Linked DNA regions of Homo sapiens: region 1 is linked to region 2. The links come from fine-mapping of genetic effects on plasma protein levels. A gene starts in region 2. The other region holds a variant in brackets. All regions are shown on one strand. Distances are between the middles of the regions. Region 1 overlaps ADAM23 (ADAM metallopeptidase domain 23). Region 2 holds the start of ADAM23 (ADAM metallopeptidase domain 23).

What was found. A credible set is the group of variants that fine-mapping cannot tell apart. PIP is the posterior inclusion probability: the model's chance that the variant is causal. The UK Biobank Pharma Proteomics Project read protein levels with antibody pairs (Olink). The fine-mapping took linkage between variants from a reference panel, not from the people measured, so its PIPs are less certain.
Region 1: its variant is the best candidate, but not a certain one, in a credible set for the plasma level of the ADAM23 protein (UK Biobank, PIP 0.86).

The regions. Positions count from the first base shown.
Region 1 is chr2:206,508,515-206,523,861 of GRCh38, forward strand. All of the region lies in intron 3 of ADAM23 (ADAM metallopeptidase domain 23), which reads left to right. Among named protein-coding and RNA genes, the nearest start is that of ADAM23, 73 kb to the left of the region's middle. The variant C/T (reference allele first, on the strand shown) is at 8,330.
Region 2 is chr2:206,437,233-206,452,579 of GRCh38, forward strand. ADAM23 (ADAM metallopeptidase domain 23) reads left to right here and starts at 6,300. Exons shown (of 26, transcript NM_003812.4): 1 at 6,300-6,848; 2 at 8,075-8,292. The coding sequence starts at 6,635. RefSeq lists a silencer at 6,745-6,874.

The DNA of each region.
Region 1 (15,347 bases), 71 kb after region 2:
GCGTGGTGGCTCACACCTGTAGTCGCAGCTACCCAGGAGGCTGAGGCAGGAGAATCGCTTGAACCTGGGAAGCAGAGGCTGCAGTGAACCAAGATCATGCCACTGCACTCCAGCCTGGACTGAGACTGAGACTCTGTCTCCAAAAAAAAAAAAAAAAAGAAAGAAAAAGAAGAAAGAAAAGGAAGGGGCTTAGTAAAGCCCCCTGCTTTTCAAATATCACCTAATGAAGCTAAACATAGCATGCATTGAGGTACCTACTAAGTTCCAGGTGCTGAAATAGGCATTTTGTATTTGAGTAGTAAAGACCTTGTCTTATTTCTGAGAAGTCATCAACAACATAAGACTTGTAACAAACGCACCTTATAACTCTATGAATAATTTTCTCAATTTTTCTCTCTGAGATCGCTGGCAAAGTTTTGTCCAAAACCAAGGATTCATTAAAATGGCAGCTTGTCATGATGAAGCAATGAATATCCCAAGTTACTTGTTCATCCTCAGTAGTGAAGTTAGAGACCTGTTGTCACCAAACCATCATATGAAAAGAAGATAGCAATAGATGTTTATATTAGTTTCTTTTTCATTGTCAGAAATCTTTGTACTTTTGAGACATAGAAGAATAGCTGTTAAATCAAAAGCAGTTTTTTTGTAAAGAGATAATGTTTTTGGAAAAGTGACTGCTCATTATAAAATGTCAAGTCGATACAAAAAGAATACAAAGAAAAAGTGAAAAACAGATTCGTATTCAGAAGTAACCATTATTAATATTGTTAAACTTAATTCAGAGAACTCTGTATGTATACTGATAGAAGGCTTGATAGTGTACACATATGAGATTATTCTATAATGATATTTTAAATATAAATGATTAAATTTAACAAAATTTGAATACAATATTAAATTTATTTTTCAGGGGGAGATTATTTGTATTTTCTTTTTTCTTTTTTTTCTTTTGGAGATGGAGTCTCGCTCTGTCACCCAGGCTGGAGTGCAGTGGCTTGATCTTGGCTCACTGCAACCTCTGCCTCCTGAGTTCTAGCGATTCTCCTGCCTCAGCCTCTCGAGTAGCTGCGACTACAGGCATGCGCCATCACGCCCAGCTAATTTTTGTATTTTTAGTGGAGATGGGATTTCACCATGTTGGTTAGGCACGTCTCAAACTCCTGACCTCAGGTGATCCGCCGGCCTTGGCCTCCCAAAGTGCTGGGATTACAGGTGTGAGCCACTGCGCCCAGCCTGTATTTTCTTTACCTCTGTATTTTTGACATTGTAATGAACTTGTATTATTTTCATAGTTAAAATTATATAACAAAAAATAAACTATGGTAATAAGTTTTATGTAATGAAGACAAGTATCAGTAGTGGCTGTGTGACACATGAGTGATTCCTTCTCTCCTCCTGAGCCCGTGGCTTTGACATTAGCTAATAGTTGTAGGAGTCTTTCCTTTGGATCCCAGACTTGAGCTCAGAATCTTTATCAACATAGTTTTGTAGATTGTCAGACCCAATTGACTGCAGTTAGTCTTGAATTGAGACTCATTTCCTAGACTTGGTCTCTTTATTTAGTTCCTTCCTAGTTTTTGCTTTCTAATTATGCATCATAGTTATGAAGTGCATATACTGTGCATGAAATCACATTAGGAGGAATTATACGTGGAGGAACTCATGGTCTGTGATTCTAATTATGAGCACCTTCTTTTGGGGCTTAATAAATATTAAATTTAAAAGAAAAACAAATGAAATGAAAGGAATTGGTGAAGATCAGACAAATACTGTATTTCTTTATAACAAAACATATTACTTGCTAAAAAAATCCTACTAAAGTTGTGAAGAACTTTGTATGGAGTCGTTTAAAAAGAAATGCCTCAGATTGTATATTTAAGAAGAGAAGAAATTTATATACTAAGACTTCTTTCACTTCATTCTCACCTGTTATAATGTTCTTTTTACATTGCCAAGATTTATTAAATTTGTGTTTTGTTTAGTAACCACAATAAATACCAATTCTTTACTTAAAATAACTGGGCCCATCATGGGTCTTTTTAGCATGGTTTCTCCATACTTCCTGGATTATTTGTGTTTGGCTTGACTGGAATTAATTAAAAAGCAGATTGTCTGAGAAAGACTTTTGAGTGTTGTATTTCATGAGTTCTTCAACAGTTGGGAAGTGTTTGAAGAATAACTTGGCTGGACATGAAATTTTGAATCATACTTTCCCTGGGACTTTATAGAAATGGCTCAGCTTAAGCTGGAGATTTGCTCAGTGAGTGTGAGGCCACCTAGTTTTTCCTTTTAGAGAGCTCGCTTTTTCAGCCTTAGATGGTCATATGATTTTTCTTTATCAGTAACTTCCAGGTGTACTAACACTATTTATGTTCATTGTTTTACCAGTTTTTCCAGGAACATGGTATAGTTTTTTGAGCTGCAAATTCAAGTCTTTCTTTGATTTTAGGAAAGTTCTGTTCTGTTATATTTTTACCTATTTTTTTCTCTTCCATGTGTTTTATTTAGGAGTACCTACCAACAAGATGTATCTTTTATCTTTTTTGTCTATCATCTCTATACCATTTTATCATTGATTCCTGACTGTATTTTCGTTGTTTTTCCTTTTTCTAATTTGGGTTGCACCCTTGTACTATTTATTTTTTATTTCATTTTTTTCTCTCCTGAGCTTTGCCAGCTGCCTTTTCATGTTCTTTTATGATGTCTCTTTGAAGTCCTTTTACAAAAGAGGTTCTTTCTATAATTTCTTTGAGATCAGAGTATTTGAACATTTCCTCTGTTTTCTTATGATGCATATCCTTCATCTCCCCTGCGGTTTGCTACTTTCCTTCTTTCTTTTCTTCCTGGTTATCTGTGTTCTTTTCTTTCTCATTATGATTCTTCCATGCATGGGGACAGCTATTTGCTGAAGCAGAGTGTGGGGAGGAGAGCCAGTGGGGACAGGGAGGGAAGAGTGAGCCAGGGTTCCACAGCTTGTTTGGAGTTTGTTGTTTTGATCACTCTTCACCAGTCTGTTGTTCTCTGCCTTGGAGGGGTGCATCCCTCCCTAGGGGCATAATCAGGACAGTGGAGCTCATAGCAGAACCTCCTTGGAGCTCTGTGTGGCAAGCAGGCGTTTGAACTTTCACATTTCTTCACTTCACCCCTAGAAGGTCCTCTGACCTGTTGAAATTCTGGGGATGCATGTGTTGGCTTAGACTTCTCAGTATTTAGCTTTGTAGTTTTTAGCAGCTTGAAATTGGACTAATTTCTTTCTGTAGGGAATGTGTAGTAATTTTTTATTCCTCTTTTTTTATTCCTTTGTTGCTATTTATGAGGAACTTATCTGTGCAAGGAATCCAAATAAGGAAAAATTAATGATAGTCTAAGACAGAAAATGAGAGGGAAGGAAACATTTTCATTCCCTGGAAGTATTTTGATTGTTACATATTTCCCTAGGTATGTTACAGTGTCAGTGGCCTTGGATGACAAGGTAACGAATGAGGTTCTGTTAACTAGGAACATTCACTGAGGTATTCAACACTAGGTGCAGATGACTGGGATTTGGAATATTTAGAAGGTAATTTCAATGACATATGTGGTGAAATGTAGGTAACTGTAGGAAATGGTGTAATGCTTAGAATTCACATAAAAGAGATAAAGAGAACTGATAGCCACATGCTTATTTCATGAGATTATGGGTTTAAAAATTAGAATTACTTTCAATTTTCTAAACAAGCTGCTTAATAGCCTCTTAAAGGACGAACAAATTCAAATTCTTCTCTAGTTAAGAATTGTAAGAATGATCAGGCATGAGACACAGAAAAAAGGAAAAAAGCCTCATTATGCTATTACTTCACTCATCATTTCTGATTTTAAATTGCAGTTTAGTGTGGGTATTTAAATTGCTAGCTATTTCAAAAATGTCCTCTGGTTTTAGATACTATAATCAGCTGAAAAGGCTATTGAGTGCCGTTACATGGCCTCAAGATCTAAAAACTTTTGTATAAAAATAGAACAATTTATAATACTGATCTGACCCTCTGAGCATGCATGTGAAGACATTCCTAGAATAACCCTTTTTAGAATTATTGGATGTTCTAAATAGTCTAACAATGTAACGTATTGTCTTTGATGAAAAAATAGAAACTCTGAAAAAGACTTTTTTTTTGAGCAAAAAGCATCTGGAAGTGCCTTGAACTATATAAAATGAGTGCACAGATATACCTAGTTTTATGTTCTTCACTTAATTGTGCTTTGCAGATATTGTGCTTCTAACAAGTTGAAGGTTTTTGGGAGCCGTGCATTGAGCAAGTCTATTGGCACCATTTTTCCAACAGCGCATGCTCACTTCTCTGTCTGTGTCATATTTTGGTAATTCTCGCAGTATTTCAGACTTTTTCATTATTATTTAAATTATTATGATCTGTGATCAGTGATGTTTGATGTTACTATTATGGTTGTTTTGGGGGTACCACAGACTGTACCCATAGAATCCAGTGAACTTTATGGATAAATGTGTATGTCCTGGCTTCTCCACTGACTGGCCATTCCCCTTCTCTCTCCCTCTCTGGCCTCCTTATTCCATGAAACACAACAATTTTGAAATTAGGTCAATTAACAACCTTATACCGGCCTCTATGTGTTTAAGTGAAAGGAAGAGTCACATGTCTCTCACTTGAAATTAAAAGGTAGGAATTACTAAGCATAGTTTCAAGGCATGTTGAAAGCTGAGACAGGTTGAAACTGAGGCCTCTTGAGTCAGTTAGCAAAGTTGTGAATGCAAAGGAAAAGTTTCTGAAGGAAATTAAATGTGCTATTCCAGTGAACACAGGAATGATAAGAAAGTGAAACAGCCTTGTTGCTGATATGGAGAAAGTTTTAATGTTCTGGATAGAAGATCAAACCAGCCAAAACATTCCATTCAGTGAAAGCTGAATCCAGAGCATATCTCCCCTCAATTTTATGAAGACAGAGAGAGATGAAAAAGCTGCAGAAGAAAAGTTTGAAGCTAGCAGAATTTGGTTCATGAGATTTAAGGAAAGAAGCTGTTTCCATAACATAAAAGTGCAAGGTAAAGCAGCAAGTGCTAATGTAGAAGCTGAAGCAAGTTATCCAGAACATCTAGCTAAGATAATTAATAAAAGTGGCTACACTAAACAACAGATTTTCAATGTAGATGAAACAGCCTTCCTATTGGAAGAAGACTCCATCTAGGACTTTCCTAACTAGAGAGGAGAACTCAAAACCTGGCTTCGACGCTGCAAAGAACAGGCTGACTCTTGTTTGGTGATAATGCAGCTTGTGACTTTAGGTTGAAGCCAGTGCTCATTTAGCATTCTGAAAATCCTAGAGCCCTTAAGAATTATGCGAAATCTGTTCTGCCTGTGCTCCATAAATGGAACAACAAAGCCTGGGTGACAGCACATCTGTTTACAATATGGTTTACTGAATATTTTAAGCACACTGTTGAGACCTATGGCACAGGACAAAAAAAGATTCCTTTTTAAAATATTACTGCTCATTGACAATGCACCTGGCCACCAAAGAGTGCTGATGGAGATGTACGAGGTTAATGTTGTTTTTATGCCTGATAACACAACATCCATTCTGAAGCCCATGAATCAAGGAGTAATTTCAACTTTCAAGTCTTATTATTTCAGAAATACATTTTGTATTACATTTTGTAAAGTGATAGTTGCCATAGATCGTGATTACTCTATTGGGTCTGGGCAAAGTAAATAGAAAACCTTCTGGAAAGGATTAACCATTCTGGATTCCATTAAGAACATTCCTAATTAATGGAAGGAGGTGAAAATATAAACATTTACAGGAGTTTGGAATAAGTTGATTTCAACCGTCATGGATGACTTTGAGGGGTTCAAGAGTTCAGTGGAGGAAGTCACTGCAGACGTGGTAGAAAGACAGTAAGAGAGGAACAACTAGAAGTGGAGCCCGAAGATGTGACTGAACTGCTGCAATCTCATGATAAGACTTGAATGGATGAAGAGTTACTTAAGTGGTTTCATGAGATGGAATCTACTGCTGGTGAAGTTGCTGTGAACATTGTTGAAATGACAGCAAAGGATTTAGAATATTACATAAACTTGGTTGGGCAGAGTTTGAGAGGATTGACTCCAATTTTGAAAGAAGTTCTGCTGCGGGTAAAATGCTGTCACACAGCATCACATGCTACAGAGAAATCTTTCATGAAGAGTCAATCAATGAGACAAACTTCATTGTTGTCTTATTTCAATAAATTGGCACAGCCACTCTAGCCTTCAGCAACCACTGATCACTCAGTTCAGCAGCCATCAACATCAAGACAAGACCCTCTACCAGCAAAATGATTACAACTTGCTGAAGGGCTCAGGTGATCATTAGCGTTTTTTAGCAATAAAGTATTTTTAGATATAATGCTATTACATGCATAATAGACTAGAGTACAGTATAGTGTAAACCTACCTTTTATGTACACTGGGGAACCAAAAAATTGTGTAACTTGCTTTATTGTGATACTTGCTTTATTGTGGTAGTCTGGAACAGATCCTGCAGTATCCCCAAGGTATGCCTGTATCTCAGTATAGTCGTGATCATAGGTCTTGCTTTTCTTTAGATTCACTGTTGGTGTTATCATCCATGAATTTCACCTTCCTGTGTACAAACATCTCTTATTACAGTAGGAGAATATGGGAGTCAGAAAAGGAAGACATTTATTGTCATTATGAACTCAGAAATATGTTTTCTAGTGATCATTGAAACAACTGAGATTGATATTTTCCAGCCACGGCAGTTTTGGTGATTGAAAGCAAGATCTGTTTTTTAAAAATTAAATATAAGTTTGCACATTCTTCCAGGGAAGGGCACGGGATAATTTCCCTTGCCATTTTATTTTGAAACCAGCTTTGTTGTGGTGGCACGCTCCATGAGATTTGCTCCATGAGATTTGCTCCATGTTGCACCACACACAGTCTTTGCTCCTGTGTCCTTCCATAGAAAAAAACAGTGTGGGGAAGGATTTGGTTTGTCTTACCCTTTAATCTTCTGCTCCTACAGCTCTCTGGTCTGATAGTTCACTATTTTGGTAATAAAGTCAGATATAGTTCAAATCCTGTCTGGTCTATTATTTCGTGAAATTTTTGAACTTTTCCATGCTTTGGCATCCTCCAAGAACTTTTTCCTTTCTAAGTTTTACTGTTTTAATATAAATGGACTCCTATGTGAACACTTTTAGACTGGAGTCTAAAAGTGGCCTAATAGGCTTGCTATTTTTAGAGAAGGAGAAAGTTGCCTTTTGTTCTCTCTGTGCTTTTCACCTCCCACATGTTCTTTAGAGTTTTTTTTCCTGTTCTGGTCTTAGTAGTGACAGCTTTCTAATTCCAGAGGCTTTTTCCTGGGTCTGTTTCTGGCTCATTTTGTCTCATACTCAAAATTTTTAATGTCAGAATTGGGCTGGGCTCTTCTCTTTCTATTATCTGTAAACATTTTGGGTTTCTTTTCCTCTAATTTATGAAAATTATGAAATGTACACATAAAGGAGTGGAAAATATATTCACCCAGTTTAAAGAAGAGTAATAAAATGGACATTCGTATATACCCACCATCCAGGTTGAGAAATAGAACATTGCTTGTGTCTCAGAAGCTCTCTGTGTTCCTCTCAGTCACGTTCCCCCACCCCAACTCCTACCCAAGGTAACCTCTCATCCTGAAGCTTACATGGAAGATTTGGGCATTTTTATTAAAAAAAAAAAAAAGAAAGAAAAAGCCAAGTAGTGATAAAAAATAGTAACAATAGAATTTTCAGGAAAAAAATAAAGATAATGTAAATGCGTTTTTTTTCTAACATTCCACAAAAGAATAATTTGTTTAGGATTGAGGAGAGAATTAATGCTTGTCTTAGTCTGCTCAGGCTGCTATAGCAAAATTTCATCAACTGGGAAGCTTAAACAACATTTATTTCTCACAGTTTTGGAGGCTAGGAAGTCTAAGATCAAGGCACCTCAAGATTTAGTGGCTGGCAGAGACCCTCTTCCTGGCTTATAGACAAGCCACCTTCTTGCTGTGTCTTCATATGGTAGAGAGAGAGAGGGAGAGACAAAGTTCTTTGGTCTCTTCTTAAAAAAGAGAGGACTTCACCCCTTTGCCCTCATCTAAACCTAATTACCTCCTAAAAGCCCCATCTCCTAGTACCATCACATTGGGGGTTAGGGCCTCAATATATGAATTTTGGGAGGGCACAGACGTTCACTCTTGAAGGATTTCAGCTATTCGTGCTGTGTCACTGAAATTAGAACTAGTGTAAAAAGAAAAGTTCACGTACATATAATGCAAATATTCAGTGAGCTGGCAC[C/T]CAACCTACCCTTGTTTGATAAGGAATAATTGGAAATTTTCTATTTTGGCCTAGCAGTTTGAGGGCAGACAACTTCTTCTGACCTCATTTCCTCCTGATCATTGTGGACATACACCAGCAGCATTTCCTTGTCTTACAATAGTAAGCTTGCTAAAATAATAATAAATAAATAAATAAAAATAAAATAATAGTAAGCTTGCTAAAATAAAAAAACACGCTCGTACACACAACACATACACCTAAACACACGTATGCACTTTCTTTGTAAAGCTCTGTTTGAAATATACTAAAGAGGACTGTTCCTGAAGTAATCTTGCAGTCATGTCTGCTCTCATCCTTTGTTCTTTCAGCCTCACATTCCCAGTCTTCATGGGCTGACTGCCTGGGATTGACTTTTGCCTTCACAGATACTTATCTGCAAAAGATAGAGACAGAAAGTAGCCCGAGTCTCAAAGTTTTCTTGCTGCCACTGCCGTGTGCTACCTCAGACCCCTCATTGCTTACCTGGGGGCTAAGCCCTGCCTCTAGGACCCTCAGGTTCCTGTGGATTCCTGTCTTGAGTATGGTGTGCCATCTTGTTTTTTTCTGAGCTGCTTGACTTGTTGACTCTTCATCAACAAATGTTAGAATGCCTACTCTGTGTAGGCAGCTATACCAAGAACTGTGGATGCAATGTGGTGCCTGTCCTTTTTATGGGATGGTTATTTTGGAGAGTCTTGTTTGCTTTTCTAGTGTCCACAGGCTGGTATGATCTCTAGCCTTTATAGGCATTTCTCTTGACCCAGAATTTTGACTCTGCTAGACCACAAGCTTCTGGATTTTTCCTGGAGTGGCCACTTCATTTTTCTACCCCTGTCATGAGTTACCAACCTTGGTGTGGCTTTCCTGGATGTGAATCAGTTCATTTAGGACTTTTCTCATATCTTCTCTAGTCCTAACCATTCTGGTTCCTGGAACTGATACTGATAGTAAATTCGCCATAATGGACCATATACAGTTAATGCTAGCATTTCTACCAGGGTTCTAAAAATGTCTGGTTTTAAGATTAAATTAAAAATAGTCCCTCTGAAAGACCTAAATAGAATAGTTTCTCTCTTTTTCTGTGTCAGTCTCTTTGGGATTTGGCTGCTTCTGGAATCTTACAAAGGTTTTGCTTTTGATCCAAACACTGCAAGGCACTTTGTGAATGTGAGTAAGATAGTCTACATGGGCTGAAAATTTAAGACCATTTAATGAAAGTTGTCTGGCTGCAGGAAAAATGCTCATTTTTACAAATTGTCTTAAAGTTCTGATTTATAGATCTGTTCTGCATTTTTCTACTACCACTGGATTTTATTACTGGCACATTATATTTAATTAGGATAGAAGGAATGTGTGTGCTCATAATTATTTAAAATGATTTCAGGACATATATTTAGAGAATCGAGTGTAAATACTTAATAATAGTTAAAAGATAAAAATTCAGTTTTAGTATTATGCAAAATGTCTAGACTCTATAATTAGCCTGGAGTAGATTAAATTATGCACCTCTAATCACTATTTTATACATGTCTTTCAAAGTGACATCAATTGTCATCAAATTTGCTTATTATAAGATTTTGCTGGATGAGTACTTATATTTTCAGTATATTTATTTTTTAGTGTCTTTGTGATTAAAAACATGTTAGCATGACTCTCAGGTTTTTAAAATTTGTTTTAATTACAATTAAGTGATGGTTTTCTAATTGTGTTGTCTGATTTTCAGCAGACCACTTAAATAGTTTGGTGTTAATGCAACTGTGGCTTTAGCAGATCTTGATCATTAGCTCTCAGATGAATTTCTATGTAAAGGAATTTTGTTATCAATCTAATCTGTAGAAAGAGTGTATCACTTTACATCTTGGTAATTGGGGTACAGTCTTTTTGTTGAGGTACATAGAAATATGTAGAATTAGAAGAAAATTTCAGCAGCTCTTTACAGCATATAGGCAATACGAATAGAACTGTTCTTTCAGCACCTTCTGAAAAAGATGGGCCTGAAGTCATCCCAGTATGCAATAGCTGATTATTTGACAAAGCATGTATCAAATAGATGAAAATATCAAATAGACGTGTGTGTTAATAGTCCTCAACTTCCAGTTTAGCCTAGGTGTATATTTAAGGTAGGAGATGATGACAATCATACTCATATTCACTCTTTTAGACTTAGAAGTTTTCTTGGAGACCCTATAATTCAACATTCTTGGTTTTTGTAAGGGAGAAGACTAGTTGGACAATGTTAGTTACTTCTCTGAGATCTCAGAGATGGTCAGCTCCTGGGTGCCTGTTTAGTTCAGGCATTCCCCTGTGACAGGATATGACAGCACAGTGAAAAAGGGCCGGTTAGCACGCTCATAAACAACACTGAATCTGAAAGTCCACACCAGTTGGAAGAATTATCCTTTCCAAAGAAGCTACAAATGACTGATAGTTTTTCCAATATATTCTGTAATTTTCAGAGGTATCTTAGCTTGTTATTATTTTAAAATTGTACATAATTTAGAAGAATGAAAATTCTGTTTGTTAGAGAAATTAGTTGTGATTTAGGTAAGCAAAGCACAATCATGACTTTTTTTTAAACAATCGAAGTCCCAGTGAACAATTTTTGTGATGCTATGAAATGTGCTCAGAAGGTGGGCTTATTTGAAGGTCATTTTTCTAAATGATAACTTAAAAAAATAGTTGCCACTTTGTATGATAGTAGTTTTGTACCCACATGAAGAAAGCATTAAAAATTCTCTGTTCTCTTTCTCTTCTTGGTAGGTTGTGTTCTTATCTACCATACTGGTTTGAGATTACTGTAGAAGTATGTTTCTAATTGCTACATTGTGACAATTACTTAAACATATCTACTATTTAAGAAGAACCAGCCTGGCAAGGTGGCTATTTCTTCTAATACCAGCACTTTGGGAAGCCAAGAAGGGAGGATTGCTTGAGCCCAGGAGTTGGAGACCAGCCTGGGGAAGATAGTGAGACTCCATCTCTACAAAAAAATAAAAAAGATAAGCCACTCATGGTGGCACATGCCTGTGGTTCCCAGCTACTTGGGAGGCCAAGGTGGGAGAATTGCTTGAACCTGGGAGGTTGAGGCTGCTGTGGGTCGTGATATTTCTACCACCTTCTAGCCTGGGTAACAGAGCAAGAGCCTGCCTCAAAAAAATAAAAAATAAAAAGGAGCAAGATTATCATCTCTAAAGATTCCTGTGTTATATGTATGAAGGGTACCATGATTGCACAGAATATTGTTTTCTGTATAGTACAGAGAAATCAAGGGTGACAACTTCAAATGCCTTTTACTTTACAGGGTTGTGCAGACATGCCCTCAGTCTGTCTCTTGGGGATTTGCTCTACAGAGGCCCCTGTCTCAGTTCAGCCAGTAGATATATTCCAGGCTCAGGTTGTGGTGGTGCAGGAGAAATCAAGAGTTGGGCTTCTCCTAGGTAGGACAAAAAGAGAGGAAGAGAGCACACAAAAGACAATAGTAGTAGTTCTACAAAAATCTTACTCTTCCTTTATTAAAACAGTGTAAAATTACAAAGTACACATTAGCATTTGCATAATAAATTTTAGGACAAACATCTATAACTTACAGTGAAAGAATTTAAAGAAATGGCAACATTTAGTTAAAAACCTTTATCTTTGTTAATCATTTCTTTAATTCTCTTCTTCTTATTTTTTTCTCTCACTCAGTATCTTCGGCCGTTAATTGAATGAGTGGAGGACAGTTAAAGCCACAGGTTTTCATATGTGGAGAGGCTGCTCCTTAATGTCTTTGCTGGTCTCTTGCCGTTCTCTCCTGCTGCTAACATTAATTACTTTGCTGATGGCTCTAATTGACCCAGTAAAAGAATCTTATCTGTGTTCAGCCCTTCCCAGGTCCTGAAGTCTTTGCAGCTTCTGCTTGCTTTCAGCCTTTATAAATAGCCTTCCAAGTTCTGAGTTCTGGTTCTAGAGTTCCCTTTCCTTTGAAAGTCCTACCCCTTGCTTAAGCCTGTGGATCACTGTTTCTAAACCCACCTTTTCAACACTATTGCCCCATATCACTGATGCCCCAGCTCAACTGGACTTTTAGCTTTTCCCTGAATAGGCCTCTTTGCCTTTTCCTGTTTCATGGATTTGTACACAGTGGTCCCTGTCTATAGGATCTTCTCTTTCCTGCCCATATTTCCCTGTCCAAATTGTATCGTAGAGACTGCCTAAGCCCTGCTTCTTCACTAAAGGGTTCCCTGATCATATTAATTGAAATTAATTTTCTCCTTGAGGGCTGCTTGATGCTTTGTTTGTTATTTATGGTAGTAGGCTAACTGCTGCCTTGGCTTATTTTAGCAATGAGATTATAATCACCTTGACGGTGAGAGGCATTTTGTTTCTCTTTTTGTCTTTACCTACTCCCACCAGCTGATATTCAGGGAACATCTGTCTCATTGAGTTTAGGGGATGTAGGGAAAGCCTGGTCAGCTGCTGCTCCCTGCATGGTAGGTGGTGGTATTGTGAATGTCTGTGGTTCCTGGTGTTTCCTGGACTCGAAATTAGTCCTTAATTAAATAATTCCTTTATTAAAGGAACTATGCTTCTTTTCCTTTAAAAATATAGCTTGTATTGTGGTTTCGTCTTAAAATGGCAGTATACATTCATTGTAAAAATTTTGGGTAATACAGTTAAGCAAAAGAAAGAAAATAAAAACTCTTGAAAGTTCTGCAGGAAACAGTAGCTCACTGCTACATTTGGTATACACCTTTTCAGACATTTTTCTATATGTGAATGTATGTATATAAACATACTTCTAAAAAGTTGCCAAGCATAGTATTCTTTTATTTTTCTTTTCACTGAATGATGTTGTGAACATCTTTCTAAGTGTGAAAGCCTTGAAAGCTGCTCTCACCTACATCATGCATGTATTGTTTTTTGTCTAGTCATTTCCTCAGGAAACCCTTATGAGTGGAACTTGTGGATTATAGGGTGAACATGCTTTCAGGGCTTTTGATACCTATTGCCAAATTGCCCTCTGCATGCCAGTTTTCCTACATCCTTGCCAGCAGTGGCTACTGTCATTCATTTTTATTTTCTAAAGTGATGGGGGAAAACGATCTCTTTCATTATTTTAATTCACAGGTATTTTATTGCTAGTGCAGCTGTAGGTTGGTGTATGATTGATCACCATGAATATTTCTTGTTTTCTTTTTTTCATGAGTTGCATGTTGTATACATAATTCTTCATGTTTATTTAAATCCAAGTTTATTCATAGGTTATATATATGTATGTAAATATATATGTATGTATATTCATATATATATATCTCTGTGTACATTATACATATATAAATAAATTCAACTATATTTGTACACATATAAAATTTGTTGTTGTTAGTAGAAACTTTTCCCCCTAGATTATTTTTAGATGTTTTTTGTTGGTTGTACATCTAGAAATGTGTTTTGTTTTTGCATATTTATCTTGTAACCAGTCACCTTACTTAACTGTTATTATTTCTGATAGTTTTTCTGTTGGTTTCTTTTTTATTCTTTTGGCTATTTTATATATACCTAGGAAGAATAGAACACCATATAAACAGATGTGCAGTTTTTCTGTATAGAATGAAAAATGAAAAAAGTAAAGAAAAAAGTAAAAAAATGAAAAGAGTTCTTTTCCTAGAATGTGGCAAAAACTGGACTTGGAAGAGAGTAGTTTCTTCTGTACAAGGTTACCAGAAGGCAAAGCTGATCATGGATCCTCTTCTGTTCTCTGCAATTTCTCTATGTGTGATGCTTGCTTTATAGTTATGTTAATAAATATTGGATGTATCAGAAAAGAAGCTGGATTAGCAATAGTCACCAACTACATTCATTATTAGCTTTGAAATTTGTTCATCATAGCATTTCAGTGATGTGTAACTATGTGCAGAAGATAGGCCTTTTTTATTTGGATCCAGTTTTCCTTGTGTTTAATTTTTTTTTTTTTGGTTTTATGACATACGGGGGTAAAACTAGATTGTGAAAGTAACCATGATTCTGTCATAAAGGAATCTCAAAATTACTGGAAACTTGGAGAGACACTGGTAGCCACAACTAGAAATGTGTTATCCACTTCATATGGTCGAGCTTTAAGTTAAGGGGAAGAAACGAAACATCTTTCATCTTTTATTTAAAGATTTTTCTTCTGATACCACCCTCCTCAGAAGGGAACTCTCACTGGCTTTTAGGCTGATCAAGCCAGCTGAGTGAGGGTTCTCAGCTTTTATATCACCTCAAGTCTCCTAACTCTTTGTTTCTCCACTCTACAATTAGCTTGCAGGCCTGCCTATGTTTCCTGTCCTCATTATACTAGGGTTTTCTAAACTTTATTATGGCTAATGGGACCATTACCTGAGATGCAGGAGTACCTACACATTTACATTTCCACTGCAATCTCTCATATGGTTTAGGAGATCATTAAATTTCTCTTGTTACCCCCAAAGAAAAACCTCTATAACCTATTCATGCTAGGAACATTCTCTGCCTGCAGTTCTGTTCCTATGAAATGTGCCCACACTTACCAGCCCTTGCCGGGCATGCCATCTTTGTCTGACTTAACGCAAAGCCTCTATGCAACCTATAATTATTTTCACCCACTTAATATATCATTGCTACATGCTTAAATCCCAGCCTCTCCATGTCCTCGATCTTTTAACGTAGCTTAAAATTCTTACTGTATTGTTTACACTCAAAGGAGTGTATATTTTTTAGCTGAAACAACTTTTGGTATGAAAACTATTTTAGGTGGTATGAGTCTATTTTTTTTTTAAAACTTTAGAAAAGTAATGGTTGAAAAATTGTTATACTTTTAAAGTCTTCTGTTACAAAAAGAAAAGAAATATAAGAGCAAGCATAATTGTAGGATACAAGCTTATGTTTATATGAATGTATTGAGTTTAAATTTTGTGTCTGCATTACCACTTACAGTAATTATCTAGTGAATTTAAAATATCTTATGTGTATAAAAGGACAAAACAGAGAAGCTTCTAAT
Region 2 (15,347 bases):
TGGGAGGCAGAGGTTGTAGTGAGCCAAGATCGTGCCATTGCACTCCAGCCTGGGCAACAAGAGTGAATCTCCATCTCAAAAAAAAAAAAAAAAAAAAAAGAGAGAGAAAAAAAGAGAACAACCATATGACCCAGCAATACCTCTTCTGGTTATATACCCAAACAAAGTGAAATCATCACCTTGTAGTAATATCTGCACTCTCCCGTGGTCATTGCAGCATTATTCACAATTGCTGAGATATAGAAACAACTGAGGTGTCTGTCAGTGGATGATTGGATAAAGAAATTATAATTGTGTATGTATGTAATTTTTTTCTTTCTTAATTGCTGCATAATAGAGGCATGTAGTTTCAGGGTACATGGGATCATTTAATACATTCATATAATTTGCAAAGATCAAATCAGTTATACAACGAAATTTTAATCAGCATCAAAAAGCAAGGCCATCCTGCCATTTGTGACAACAGGGATGAATCTGAAGGTCATTATGCCAAATAAAATAAGTCAGACACAGAAAGAAAAATACTGTGTGATCTCGCTGATATGTGGGATCTAAAAAATAAAGGTTGAATTTATAGAAACAGAGGCTAGAATTGTGGCTACCAAGGGTGGAGGGCAGCAGAGGGCAGGATGGGAGGGAGACTTAGGGGAGATGTAGTCAAAAGGTACAGAGTTGCAGTTGTGTAGGATGACTAAGTCTAGAGAGCTAATGTACAGCATGAGGACTACAGCTATTCATATTGTATTGTATACTAAAAATGGGTAGCTATGTGAGTGACGAATATGTCAATCTGCTTGACTGTAGTAATCATTTTACTATGTATATCAAAGCATCACATTGTACACCTACAATGTATAAAAGTGTTTTTAAAAAAGCTCTCTAGGTGATTTGAATGTGCAGGGATCGAGGATCCCTGCAAAGAGCTGTGAATCTTAGCACTCTTACCTCTAAGGTGGGGCTCCTAAAAACAATAACAGTAACTGCCCTGTGTCACAATGTTGAGGATCACGTAAAATAATATAGACAAAAGCACTTTGCAGTGTGTAAGTGCACAGTAATAATTAAAGCAGGCATTGTTAAAGGACTTAGCCATTGCTATTATGCAAGCGGATGGGATTACATTAGCATATTAATTCTGTCTGCTGGGGTTCTAACCTTTTCATATGCAATTCAGCTGCTATAGTTTAGCCCCCACTCCCACCCCCAGTAGGACGTGGTAATTTACTTCTGTAGAAACTCCTAGTGCTGCTCTGTGACCCAGTGAGGACTTAATGATTATGTGTTGACTCAGCGATTATTCTTAATAAACACAATTCTTCCAAGTTTTGCAGAGCACATATTATCACCACGAATCACCATGACATGCTCATGTATCCCTTTGTGCCCAGCTTGTAAACACACAAAACTGTTAGATAAACAAACCTAATGTTTTAGAGTGGGGGAAAATCAACTGTTTTCAAATTTATCTTATACTATCTGAATTCCTAATTAAACTCCTTTTAACATAATTTCCTTTAAGAACTCAATTTTAGGTTTCTTCTGTGGTTACCTTTCTTCGGATATTTTCATGCTCGACATTGTAACACATTTTTGTCTGTTCCACTACTCCCCTAGAAATGTCCGTTGCCATTGGTCTTTTGGTATTGAATACTTTTTCTTTTCCCAGTCGTGTTGAAATTAGTCACACAGTGACTTTTGAAATTGTCCCACTTTGTCCTGGTCTTCAGAATGAGCAGTGGTGTAATTAACACAGACCTGCAGACTTGCAGACTAATTTTCATGAACTTGAAGGTTGCCTGTGACATGGGGTGTGGCTCTGTGTCAGGAGTGTGTATCCCCTGCCGCATGGCCGCTCTACAGGATTGAGTTTGAGGAACACAGGCAGATCCCAGATGGTGACAGGCTCTGGGAAGGACTAGAGTGCATGTATTACTCCATTCTCTGACCACTCATGGCTGTAGCATCCATTCAGCATCCCCTACTCACAAGAAAGTATAGCTTGGAAAAACAAAAGAAATGTCTAGAATCTTTTTGACATCTGTATTTTTTTTTTTGGTGAATGATTTCTGACTTTTCTCCCATTATCATCATCTGAGAATTGGCTTCAAAAGGAGAAATACTTCTTTCCTAAGGGATCCCTTCAAATGATGAACATCTTTTGAGAATTTAGTGACTACTTACTGATTAAACAACTATCTAAATTACAATGGAGAGCAATCTTTTCTAGAATTAGAGCCCTCTATATTGTGGCACACGCTTCCTTCGCTTTTTCTGCTTATATGCACAGGACATAATACAGTTGATGAAAAAAATTTAACCTTACATATATATATATTTAAGGTGTATATATATAGTATATATTATAAGGTATATATATTTAAGGTAAATATATATATATATATATATATATATAGAGAGAGAGAGAGAGAGAGAGAGAGAGAGAGAGAGATTTAAAAATGGCTAGCTGACAAACCAGGTCCTGTAGGCTGCATGGTTTTCACATTCTTAGAGGTTTGTAAAGAAAAAAAAATGCAGCAGAGACCATATGGCCCACAAAACCCAAAATGTTTATTATCTGGCCTTGTACAGAAAATGTTTGCTGACTCCTGAACCACGTGGCAAGTACCAATAACGAAGCACACTCGCTTTTTACTTTCATGAAGAAATGCATTGTCTTTTCTCCTTTGAAGTATCCACTTCCGCTGGTAAAATCAGTCTTCACAGCTATTCTAAAAGGAGGCTGAGAAACCTTCTCTAGCTGGCTCTGTAACACAGGCTGTCCCAGCGAGCTCCTGGGTATAAGCTGCTCTTGAGCCAGAGCTGCTGTTTGAGGCTTGTTCATGCTCTTGCTTTCACTCCCTAGATCTCTCTTAGTATCAGCACCATCCACTAATTTGCTGCACACCTTCTTTGACCTTGACTTTTTGGGCAAATGCTTATTCCATTCCAATTGCTCTTGTAAGTCTGCTTTGCTACCTTCCCCTGCTTTTTTACTTATTTTACCCTCTGGACCTCTCTTCTGTCATCCCCTTCTTCTACTTTCTCCCCTAGCATCTCAGCCCTCTTGAGGCCAAGGCCTGCTACATCTAATATTTCTATTTCTGTCCTTTGCTTGCTCCTGTCCAGACCCAGTCTTCTCACTGGTTGCAAAGTGGGTCCAGTTCTACCACTGGAAACAGATTTTGGCAAATAGAGACCTTCTGATCTCCTCCCTCACCAGACCAATGGACCATTTTTGTGAACAGTATGACGACCCTTCCTGGGTATTGCTCACATGCACCCCTCATGGTGCTTACCTAGGGTCCATATTGCCTGGTGTAATTTCCTTCCCATGGACCTTCTGGCCACCTGCCTTCACCTACGACTGCAGCATTTCTCCATGTCTGCCACTGTGACTAGATCACTCCAGTGATCCTCTGATGGCCTTAGGATCCAACACACATTGGTAACCAGGGCCATTATAGCACTCAAGCTTCTGGTATATTTCTTTATTCCAGTCCATCTTGCTGAATCCCTCTGTTTCCTACCTGTGAGTGCCCCTCTATGAATGCTGATTTGATTCCAGGTACTATACTAGGCTGTGGAGTCAGAGATGACCAAGATACAGCCTTGCTCTCAGTATTTTTTGATGGAAGAATGATGATATGCACATACACGAATACAGAGCAAAGCAGTAGGTGGCAAGTGATTAAGCAAGTCACTAAATCTTATGAAAGCACAGAGGGGAATATTTAGAAGTAAACTCTATAAAAATAAAAATTCTGAACTACCTAATAAGAATATTACTAACTCTACCAAGTTGACCAATTAAATTATTTAATCAGTTAATATTTGATTCTGTTTTTAACCTTCCCTTAAATATATGGCTTAAAGACTAAACTTCCAGTAAATTTTTTCTAAGTAATGTACTCTTTCTCTGACTCATTATTTCATTTATTGATATCTTATTTTGACTCTAGCAATGTCTGTAACCATTAAAGTTCTGTAAATAAATGCAGTCTTTTGACTATAGTACATAAGACAACATCCCTCTTTGTAAATACCCCAACCCCTTATTAGAAACTATATTGAGGCCAGGTGCGGTGGATCACGCCTGTAATCCCAGCACTTTGGGAAGCTGAGGTGGGTGGATCACCTGAGGTCAGGAGTTTGAGAACAGCCTGGCCAACATGGTGAAACCCCGTCTCTACTAAAACTACAAAAATTAGCCGGGTGTAGTGGCACGTGCCTGTAATCCCAGCTAATCCCAGCTACTTGGGAGGCTGAGGCAGGAGAATCGCTTGAACCTGGGAGGCAGAGGTTGCAGTGAGCTGAGATCGCACTACTGCATTCCAGCCTGGGTGACACAGCAAGACACCATCTCAAAAAAAAAAAAAAAAAAAGAAAAAAAGAAACTATATTGAATCCTCATTCCATACCCCAAGTGCATGAAATGATGTGTTGTAACTGGTGGGTGGGTTTGGTCAGTCCAGGTTGGCTGATAGGTTTATTTATCAGAACAGACTTTAAGAGGTTGTCACTGAATTGCAAGAGATGCCTTTCAAGTAACTTGCATCTGGGTGCTTTGCACCTTTCATTTCCCTCTCCCTTCTCATTGCTTGTACATCTCCTTTCTGGCTTGCTTTCTCTCAGGCCCTTTTTCAGGATGCATATTGTGTCAAATATAAATTTGGAAAACCTAGCCAGAGAATACTTGACTTGAGGGAGACAACCCTAAGAACATTGACCTGCAGTGGGCACTCCGGTGGGGCTAGAGTGTTCACTAGCCTGCCCCAAGTGTGACTTCTGCTTGTGTGTATCACCCATTTCTTTATTCATTTAGTACATATTTTCCAAGCGATTTCTCTGTGCCTCAGACACTGTGTGAGGTCCTAGGGACACAATGGTGTGCAGAAGGGAAAACTGTTGTTGCCCTCACATGGGGGAGGTAGCAACAATTACAAATTTACAGGAATAAATATGTGATAATAATATCCTAGCTCAACATAGAAAGGAAGTTATCTCAGTATTTACCTAACAGTTTTGTAATGTGTGTGTGCGCGCGCGTATATGTCTTCTTCTTTTCTCTTTGTTAAGTGTGAGTGGAGAAGATGATGGCTAACACTGAGTTCTGTCATGGCCATGGCACTTTTATACCCACATTCTTTCTTTTAATCATGGAATTCTCCACCCCAGCCCTCACCCCGTGGATGTCGGAGTAAGACAACATTGTTATCACTCAGATTGTCATTGGGAGGGTGAATAAATGAATGCTTGCATTATGAGAGTTTGGGGGCAGAAATATGCCACAGACTCTTATCTGAAGCCATCAGATTTAGTGGCTGCGAACCCACCGAAGTCAGGGATTTACATTTTTTACAGCAACGAGAGAAAACTTCCCCTTTCCTCTGCAGAAGTCAGGACTGGATCTCAAAAATAGAAATGTGTCCTCCTAAATGTGTGCCCATCCCCGTGGTTGACAAACAACGGATTTCCCAAGATAGCTGCCACACACTTGGTTTCTAATCTCTGTATTGCTTCCCCGCCAGAATGTCGAAGTCCTTCCCGAATATGCCCAGTCATACTTTCTGAACTTTTGAGCAAACACCGTCCGGCTTCTTGTGCTTTCCTCAAAGACCCCAGGCACCGGCAGGGAGGACACAGGCCGGGGCAGAGCGCCCCTGCGCGGGGGATTCCTGCCACTCCGCGCCAGCCTGCGGCGCAAACGCTCTTCTCAGCCGCAGTCCCACCCGCTGCTGGCAATCTGAATGAGGAGCCGCGCTATTTTTACCTCCCCGGCTGCAATCCTTTATATTTACATGCAGGAAGCAAATATATAAGGGATTAAGAAGGAGATGCGTGGCCTTAGTTTATCCAGAGCAGGAAGAGGTTGGAATAGGAGAGGGTATGTGAAGTCTGGGGTGGTGGAAAAGGCAGGTGGACTTCGGCTGGTTGTTTTCTCCCGATCATCCCTGTCTCTGGCCTGGAAACCCCCGTACTCTCTTTCTTCTGGCTTATCCGTGACTGCCGGCTCCCCCTCCACCGCCCCCATCTTTTGAGGTACCACCCGTCACCTCCGATGCTGCTTGGGCTGCTGCATCACTCTGCTGCTTTACCCCCTTCCCCGCCCCCCAACAAAGCATGCGCAGTGCGTTCCGGGCCAGGCAACAGCAGCAGCACAGCATCCAGCAACAGCATCAGCACCCGAAGCCCCGCTCGGGCGCGCTCTCGGGGGGCGGGGCGCACGCCCGCTCCGCGCGTCCCCGCGCCGCTCGCTCCCGCGCGTCCCCGCGCCGCTCGCTCCCGCGCGCCGCCTCAGCATCCTCAGGCCCGGCGGCAGCCCCCGCAGTCGCTGAAGCGGCCGCGCCCGCCGGGGGAGGGAGTAGCCGCTGGGGAGGCTCCAAGTTGGCGGAGCGGCGAGGACCCCTGGACTCCTCTGCGTCCCGCCCCGGGAGTGGCTGCGAGGCTAGGCGAGCCGGGAAAGGGGGCGCCGCCCAGCCCCGAGCCCCGCGCCCCGTGCCCCGAGCCCGGAGCCCCCTGCCCGCCGCGGCACCATGCGCGCCGAGCCGGCGTGACCGGCTCCGCCCGCGGCCGCCCCGCAGCTAGCCCGGCGCTCTCGCCGGCCACACGGAGCGGCGCCCGGGAGCTATGAGCCATGAAGCCGCCCGGCAGCAGCTCGCGGCAGCCGCCCCTGGCGGGCTGCAGCCTTGCCGGCGCTTCCTGCGGCCCCCAACGCGGCCCCGCCGGCTCGGTGCCTGCCAGCGCCCCGGCCCGCACGCCGCCCTGCCGCCTGCTTCTCGTCCTTCTCCTGCTGCCTCCGCTCGCCGCCTCGTCCCGGCCCCGCGCCTGGGGGGCTGCTGCGCCCAGCGGTGGGTATGGCCCCGTGCCCTTTGCGTTGGCTTTCCCGCGGGGCCCTGCAGAGGAAAGCGAAGGGCGCGCGGGTCCGTGTGCTCCGGGCTTGTCCCCGGCTCGGCCTTTCCTTCCCTCCCTGCCTGTCTTTCCACCCTTCTCGTTCCCAAACCCCCATTCATCCCAGTTCACTTTTGGAAGTCCATTTCTGTTGCATTCGCGAAAAACCCATTCCAATTCTTGTTGGTTCCACTGGGAGGTGTTTAGTGGATCCTGGGTCCCTCAGCGATCTCTGTGCAACTTGCGGAGGGGCAACCAGTGGATGGGAAATACAGCGAGGGAGCAAGTTGCTACTTGCGTGGTGGAACCTTAATGTGAATGCGGGGAGGATGTAGTGATAATAGTGGTAATGGGCTGTTTCCTCAAATTTCGTATCCGGCGCATTCAGTGCGGTTGGAATTAAGGTGGGGGAGGCACACTTCGGGGACCAAAGAATTAAGGTGCTGAAGACATACTTCATGCACGACCTTTGGTTCTGATTTCTCAAAGTGCTTGTCATTATAATGAACAATTAATATAATACCATCTTCTATATATTGATGATTGGAAGTCACTGAAAGCAGAAAGCTGGCTTTGTCAGGAAAATAAAAAGAAATTGGGAAGCTGCCAGCATCTGTATCCCTACATGGCAAAGTATGTTTGCTCATCTTAAAGTTAAAAGAGAAGGGAATTGTCCATTTTGTTAAAAGAGTCGATTAATATTCGGTATCCATAAATTCAGTACTCAAGTTATCTTAGGAGCGTTCTTAGCTCTTGGATGGGATGCCACTAGGCAGAGTAGAGTTGTGCTTCTGTGGACTCAGAGAAGGGGTGGAGATCGGGGGCAGGACCCCTGAACATGTTCATTTAATGACTCTTCTTCCCTCAAGTTCATTCTACCCCCCCCCCAACACTTAGAAGTATAGATTTGAGTCTGACTAGAAATGTATATATAAGACATAAATCAAAATAAATAGTGCACAGTTGTATAAGCCTTATTGGCTATTTATTAACTTCTCCAGGCCATTTTATTGTTGAAATAACTTGCTTTACTCTAGCTCTACTTCTTAACTGCTTATAAATAGAAAACTTTGTGTTTGAAATTAAAGGAAAAATGCATTTTAGTGCTTATGTATTTATGGGGTAAATATGTGTGTGTTTGTGTATGTTTGTATTTTCTGCTCCCCCACCCCCCTACCTCCACCAGCTCCGCATTGGAATGAAACTGCAGAAAAAAATTTGGGAGTCCTGGCAGATGAAGACAATACATTGCAACAGAATAGCAGCAGTAATATCAGTTACAGCAATGCAATGCAGAAAGAAATCACACTGCCTTCAAGACTCATATATTACATCAACCAAGACTCGGAAAGCCCTTATCACGTTCTTGACACAAAGGCAAGACACCAGCAAAAACATAATAAGGTAGGCAGGAGGCTGGCTATGCAAAAGTAACTATCATGAAGAGTTTTCCTTTGATTTGATTTTCTGCCAGAATCTGAGTTCACAAATTTTACTGCAGCATTTTATTAAGAAAGCAATTAATATTATGATAGGGGAGAAACTGGAAGGAATTAACTTGGGATCTACTGGGATAAGACTGTTGTTTCTCTTCTCTGACTAAACTGGAACTAGAATTTTCTGATACCTGAAATGATATCCATGTATCTTTCAGGTACATTGGGCACTGAACAGTAGTTAAGTGAATGTGTTTATGATTCTAACTTGTTTCTGTGAGGCTTTATGTAAGGGTGCAGTATTCTGCCTTGATATAAAACTGTCTCCCATGATATAAAAACTGCTTTCAATCTGCACATGCAAGATTGCTTCAAGAAGCTATTTGGCTGCAGTGTCTCCATCAGTCTTTCCACTTAGAAATTGAGTGTTTAAACAGTCTGTTTCTTTAATTGATCAGTAGGAGGAAAAAAAAATTTTCTGTTGTATTTTCAATAGGTAAACAATTTGACATTTAAAAAGATTATGGTGACTAGACACAAATTATTTGCATAATATGAAGACCAATTTTGATTGGCATAATTCTTCAGTACCTACTCTGCATTGATTATGAGCAGTTGCTTTACTTTCAGGTTAGTTCAGAAAGTGGAACTGATATTTACCAAGGTATCAGTAGAAGACAAATGTTTAATATCCAAAGAGTTTAAGGGATCTTTTTCCCTGTGTTACTATTCTTTACTTGAATTAATATTATTTTGAACCCCGAGCAGATTTAAACAATGGATTATCGGTTCTTCTGTTGTTTATCGGGAGCAGAAAATAGAGTCTGTATGTTAAATGTTTCATTTTGATCTGTACTTGTTCAGGTGAGAACAACAGTTAGCAATTAACTGTCTAAACATCTAGAATTTAAGAAAGTATCTGCAGTTTACATCATTGTTTTTTATTAGTTTTCTAAAATATAGGTGAGTGGTAACAGTATTTATCCCCATTTTACAAATGGGGAGCTAGAAATTTAAGGCTTTTGGGTGATTTTCCTATGTTGTAAAGCAGCTAATATAAAATTCAGGTGACCTGAATGTTTAATTTTTACTATTTTTTACAAGTTAGGTCTCTGAGAAAGTGCTTTCTTCACCTTGAATATTACTGGAGAGGTGAACTTTCTTTCACATTATTTTGAAGTGGCTGCTACCCACCGTGAGATAAATGTGTCTCTGTTCTCAGCCAGCCCTTTTCTCCATAAGCTCCTATATAACTTAATGGGGTGACTAATAGGTCATGTCTAACTCATTTGTCTTATTGATAGGAGAAATGGGTGTTGTCTTTAAAGAAGAGAAATCCAAGGCCCTTTTGATAAAATGCATTGAGGCTTTTATAGCTTTCCTTATGAATGAGACCTTTTAGAGTTAAGTGGTTAGTTCTCAAACTCCAGCACCTTTGCTTAGGATGCTGGAGGAAGGAAAAACAGCTGCCTCAAAGCCTGTTTCAAAGAATGCTCAAGCCCTCCTCAGCAGAGACTTGAAATTTCAGTGGCACTTTTTAATAACTCAGATGTTTGAGGCTATGACTAATGCTTGCCTTATAGTTTAACCTTATGTGGCTGTTTTCTTTGGTGGGACGTGGTTTGACTGTAATATACCTGACTTCCGTGATAATAAGGTTTGTTAAACCTGTACCCACCGCTTACCTAGAGGAATAGTTGGGTTTCTTTTATACTGTACTTTGAAAAGAATGTTTCTACAGAAATCGTATTTGAAAGCATTTTTCTTATTAGTTTAACTCTATAAACATTTGTTGCACCTTTCTCATATGCAAGCGGTATGCTAAGTATTCAAAGATAAGAGATAAAGGTTAAAAGGATGAAAAGACATGATCTATCCTCCAGGAGGCAGGAAAATGAGATAAGCAAGATTCTAAAAGTGCTCCCGTACAGGTATAGACAGTGTTGTTGTTTGGTGGGTGCCTTGAAATTACCCTTTGTGTTCTGTGACCTCCCTTTTACTTCTGTTTTTAAGCATCTCTTGAAGTAGTTGATAAAAAGTGTTCCATCTGCTTTCTGCTGTATCTTAGGATGACTTGCTTAATAACAGTGATGAGAGACACTTGCCAGTTCTGCTGCTTTAGAAATGTTTCAGTAAGAAAGTATAGAATTTCATTTCTGCTTTTATGTAAAGAAGTTTTTAATATCTGTGTTATGTACCTTTTTTTCCCTCTCCTGATTTCATTGCACTGAAGCACATTTTAATGAAAGCCTTAGAAATGCTGAATCACTGTGCCTTTCTCATGGATCCCTAGACTGGGGGTAGAGGTGGAAATGGAAATTCCCAAATATAGGTTGCAAGGCCAAGCTCCACATTTATGTCTGAAGAAATTTCGTAAATGTTCAATGTTGATCAATCTTTATTACTTTATAGCTGTGAAAGTTAACATGTTTATTAACTCTTCCAGAATTGGTGAGTGTAAAAGCAGATTGTGCAAACCACCTCTTTGCATCCTAATGTTTCTGAATGCCTTAATGTTTCTTTGTCAAACAATGTTGAAAAATCTTTTTTATCTGCATAGAGTGATGTATAACCAGTTGTCCAAACTGTGCCATTTTTTAAAGTAGAAGTGGGCACTCCTAATAATTATGCCAGGTTAGTAGGCATAAACCAAGGTAGTCTAGAGCAGGCAGGGAGTTTTGACACCTTGGATCCAAATGCTGTATTCCTTGATTTTTGGTGCTTACTCAAATTCAAGATTCTTTAAAGACAATTTTATTTTCTGATGATTTATTATAAATTCTTTCTTGCTAGCTAGGAAGTCAGATTCCTGCCGTGTAGCAGTATTAGGGTCTGAAATGGAAAAATTTAATTTTGCTTTGTGTGATATTGTGAAATGTATTTGGTAATTATCCTGTTTCCTGGTACACAGCTTCGAAGACCGTTGGAATCTCCAGAGTGATGAGTGTCTTTCATATGCCAATGAGATGATGGGTGGCTGGGGGTCCCTAAATAGCTTCAGGATGGGAGCTGGTCACCAGAAAGACCAGCACATTATTAGAGGTTTGGGATTTGCACCCCACAACCCCAAAGAGAGAGGCAGAAGGTTGAGTTGATCACCAATAGCCAGTGATTTAATCAGTCATGCCTATGTAAGGAAGCATCCATAAACACCCAAAAGACTGGGTTCTGGAAACTTTTGGATAGCTGAACATGTGGAACTTCCTGGAGGGTGGAGTTCCTGGGGAGGGCATTGAAGATCCTCGCCCTATGTGTCTCTTCCATCTGGCTCTTCATCTGTATTCTTTGTAATATCTGTTATGTAAATGGTAAGTGTAAGTAAAGTATTTCCTGAGTTCTGTGAACCGCTCTAGCAAATTAATTTAAGGGAATTGTGGCTACCCTAGTTTATAGCTGATCTGTCAGGAGCACAGGCCTCCATCTGGGGCTTGAGATTGGCATCTGAAGTGGGCATTTGTAGGCTTGTGGGACTAGGCCTTCAACCAGTGGATCTGACGCTGTCTCCAGGCTAAGAGTGTCAGAATTGAATTGGAGGACATCGAGGTGGTATGTGATGGAGAATCTGCAGAATTACTTGGTGTGTGGGGAAAACCCTCCCATACGTCAGATGTCAGAAGTGTTGGGTTAAGTGTTGTGTGAGACTAGAGAAGGAAAAAACATTGCTTTTTTCTTATATCTCTTACTTTGTTATCAAGATCGATCGTTTTCACTTGTGGAGACTTTTATGGGCGTAAATGGAATTGTATGATTACTAAATATAAGCATTTTATTAACCATTAATGCAATATATTAATAAAATGGACCATACATTTTAAAAGCAGGAGAAACACTTTAGATTCATTCATTCATTCTGAGATAATCCTATGTGGTCTGTTCCTAGGAGAGTTAAGGAAGCTTTTCCTGAAACTTTAGTCAAAAACTACTTGTCCTGCTGGGCGTGGTGGCTCATGCCTGTAATCCCAGCACTCTGGGAGGCTGAGGCGGTTGGATCACCTGAGGTCAGGAGTTTGAGACCAGCCTGGTCAATATGGTGAAACCCCATCTCTACTAAAAAAATACAAAAATTAGCCGGGCGCAGTGGTGCGCACCTGTAATCCCAGCTACTCGGGAGACTGAGGCATGAGAATCGCTTGATCCCGGGAGGCGGAGGTTGCGGTGAGCGTCACTGCAGTCCACCCTGGGCCACAGAATGAGACTCTGTCTCAAAAAACAAACAAACAAAAAACCCCCCTAAAAAACTACTTGTCCTATATCATGCTCCCTTAGGATTCTCGTCTCTTCTGGTTGGGAAGGGATTGTGGAGATGCACGATGCATAGCACCGGACCTTGGGGAAAGCTGACTTTAGTTGACCTGTGTGGCTCAGTCTTTTGCTTTCTCTACTACCTACCACCCCAGGTTGAAGAGAGAAGAGAGAGAAGTTTAAGTGAATTTAGATCTTGGTGATTATTTTTGTTTCCTTCTCTATTTTAGGATAGGACTGGTTCCACATTTCTTGACTTTCCAGAAACCAGTTGTTCCATTGTTGTTGGTATGGGACAACAGAAAGAGGAACATAGGATGAAGACTCCCACCTGTCTCTGCCATGAGATGTTAGCACACGTTTTTACAATTCTGGAACATAAATTTTTATGACCTTTATTATAAGGAATTAATTTTAAAAATCAATAGAAAGTTTTATACTGTGGAACATGGGGAAAAGATTTCCCTTCTGGAAGTTTCTTTAGCAAGCCTAGACTTTATCTAAAGAGCTGCCTTTATCTAAACAGCCTTCCCAAGTTTTCCAGGTCTTCCTAAGCAGTCATTACAAAATTGTAATATATAGAATTCAGGCTTGTAATGATTTTACTTGTAATGCTTGGCATGTAGTAGGCCTTCTGTGGAATGAATTGATGATTGAACACTTATATGTTAGAGTATAGGGGTTCCCATGGAATTCATGTTATAATCAAACTAAAATTCAAAAGGACCCTCAAAATACTCAAGTATTTTTGGCACTGTGCTCCTCACTGCTACTGAGGAGAGATAATTTTGGTCTTGAGTTTTTAGCACTGCATAAGTCACACTAACTATATGCTTACACTACCTAAAGTAGCAAAAATGCCTGTATCAACAATTCTTAGATAATGTCTCTCACTGCTACCCATCATTAATGTGATTGTGATAATCAAGAGCTGGTAGTTTTTGTTATTTTTATGGTGGAGCAAGATGTGTCTTTCTACTCAAATAGTTTCCAGTAAATCAGATTTACACATAGTAGGTGTTCAGTTTTGTTTGATTCAGCAGACATTTATTGAATACTTCTTTTGAATCAGGCGCTGTGCTAGACTCTGGGGAAAACGAAGAAGACTAACACTTTGTCCCTACCTTTGCTCACTGGTGGAGTGTCAGAATCAAGGTAGCCGCTGATGTGTGGTTTATGTTAGTGCAGTTACTAGTGGAAGGAACAGAAGGCTGTAGGCATCCAAAGGAGAGAATAACCGTTGCCTAGGGAAGTCAAAGAAAACCTCATAGAGGAAGAAGCAATTGAGCTGGCCCTAAAGAGTAATTAGGAGTTAAGTTTGTGCAGAAGGTGGAGAAAGGAAGAGCCACAGAATCGGCAGAGGAGAGGCTCCAGGTGCAAAGGCCTGACTTGCTTGGGTAGTAGCAGGTTATTTGGGTGGTGAGTGCAAGAAGGGGAAACTCAAGTGTAGGAAACTTCAAAGACAGAGTCTCACTCTGTTGCCCAGGCTGTAGTGCAATGGCACGACCTTGGCTCACTGCAGTCTCTGCCTCTCGGGTTCAAGCAGTTCTCCCACTTCAGCCTCCCATGTAGCTAGGACTACAGGTGTGTGCCACCACACCCAGGTAATTTTTGCGTTTCCAGTAGAGATGGGGTTTCACCATGTTGGCCAGGTTGGTCTTGAACTCCTGACCTCAGGTGATCCGCCCACTTTGGCCTCCCAAAGTTCTGGGATTACAGGCATAAACCACTGTGCCTGGCCTAGTGTAACATTTGTAATCAATTTTTAAATATCCTACTTAGTTCCTCTAAGAACCCAGTGACATAGGCATTTATAGACATAGCAGTTGAGATTTATAGTTAGTATCTTCAGTAAGGACAAATAGCTAGTAAATGGCAGAGAGAGCCAGGATTTGAATCCAGGTCTTCCCTTTGCAGAGCTCATGCTGAAGAGAGGTAGGGTGTATTGGGAGTGGCAGGAAGTGAAGGTGGAAGGTTGTGAAGACTGTGAAGACACAAGGGGGTCTGGATTTATTCTATATCAAACTGTAAGTCCTAGGAAGTCAAGAGATGAGCGCATATTGATTGAGCATAGATGAGTGCCAATTATGTGGCTCCCCAGCGAGCTTTACTTCTAGTAGGAAGAGACAGACCATAAACATGTCCAGAGCAGCAATGACAACCACATGAAGATTTTAGGTATTGACACGTGCTTGCAGAAGATAAAAAGGCATAATATGGTAGAGAGTGGTGGGTGTGATGATTTCTCTTGAAGAATCAGAAGATTGGGCTTACGGCCCTGGATGGGAGTAATTCACCTAGGGAGTAACCCACCTACAGGTAAGATGTGGCTCCTCTTTAGATAGGATGACACATGCTGTTTACTGCAGTGCCCTCATTCTTTGTTGCTAACACTAACCCTTCTGCATTTCTGGTCCCTTTGGGCATTTGAGTTTGGATCCTTGTCTTTGATTATTCTCTTCCATAAAGTCTAGACCATTTTTGGACATTTCATCCTGGTTTGGTCCAACTGCTAACTGTGCTTTCCAGCAGCCTACAGCTGAGCTGTGCTGTTGAAAGTCTTGCTTCAGCATGTGTCCCTAAATAATGCTTTCTGCTCACGGGTTGACTCATTCCTGCTAACTATGTAACTATTAGTGTCATTCTGTCTTCACTTATTCTCAGGCTTTGTTAGCAGGGTGGACCACTGTCCTTCTCTTTACAGTTGGTGAAAAAATAACCCAGGAGGCCAGGTGCAGTGGCTCACACCTGTCATCCAGGCATTTTGGGAGGCTGAGGTGG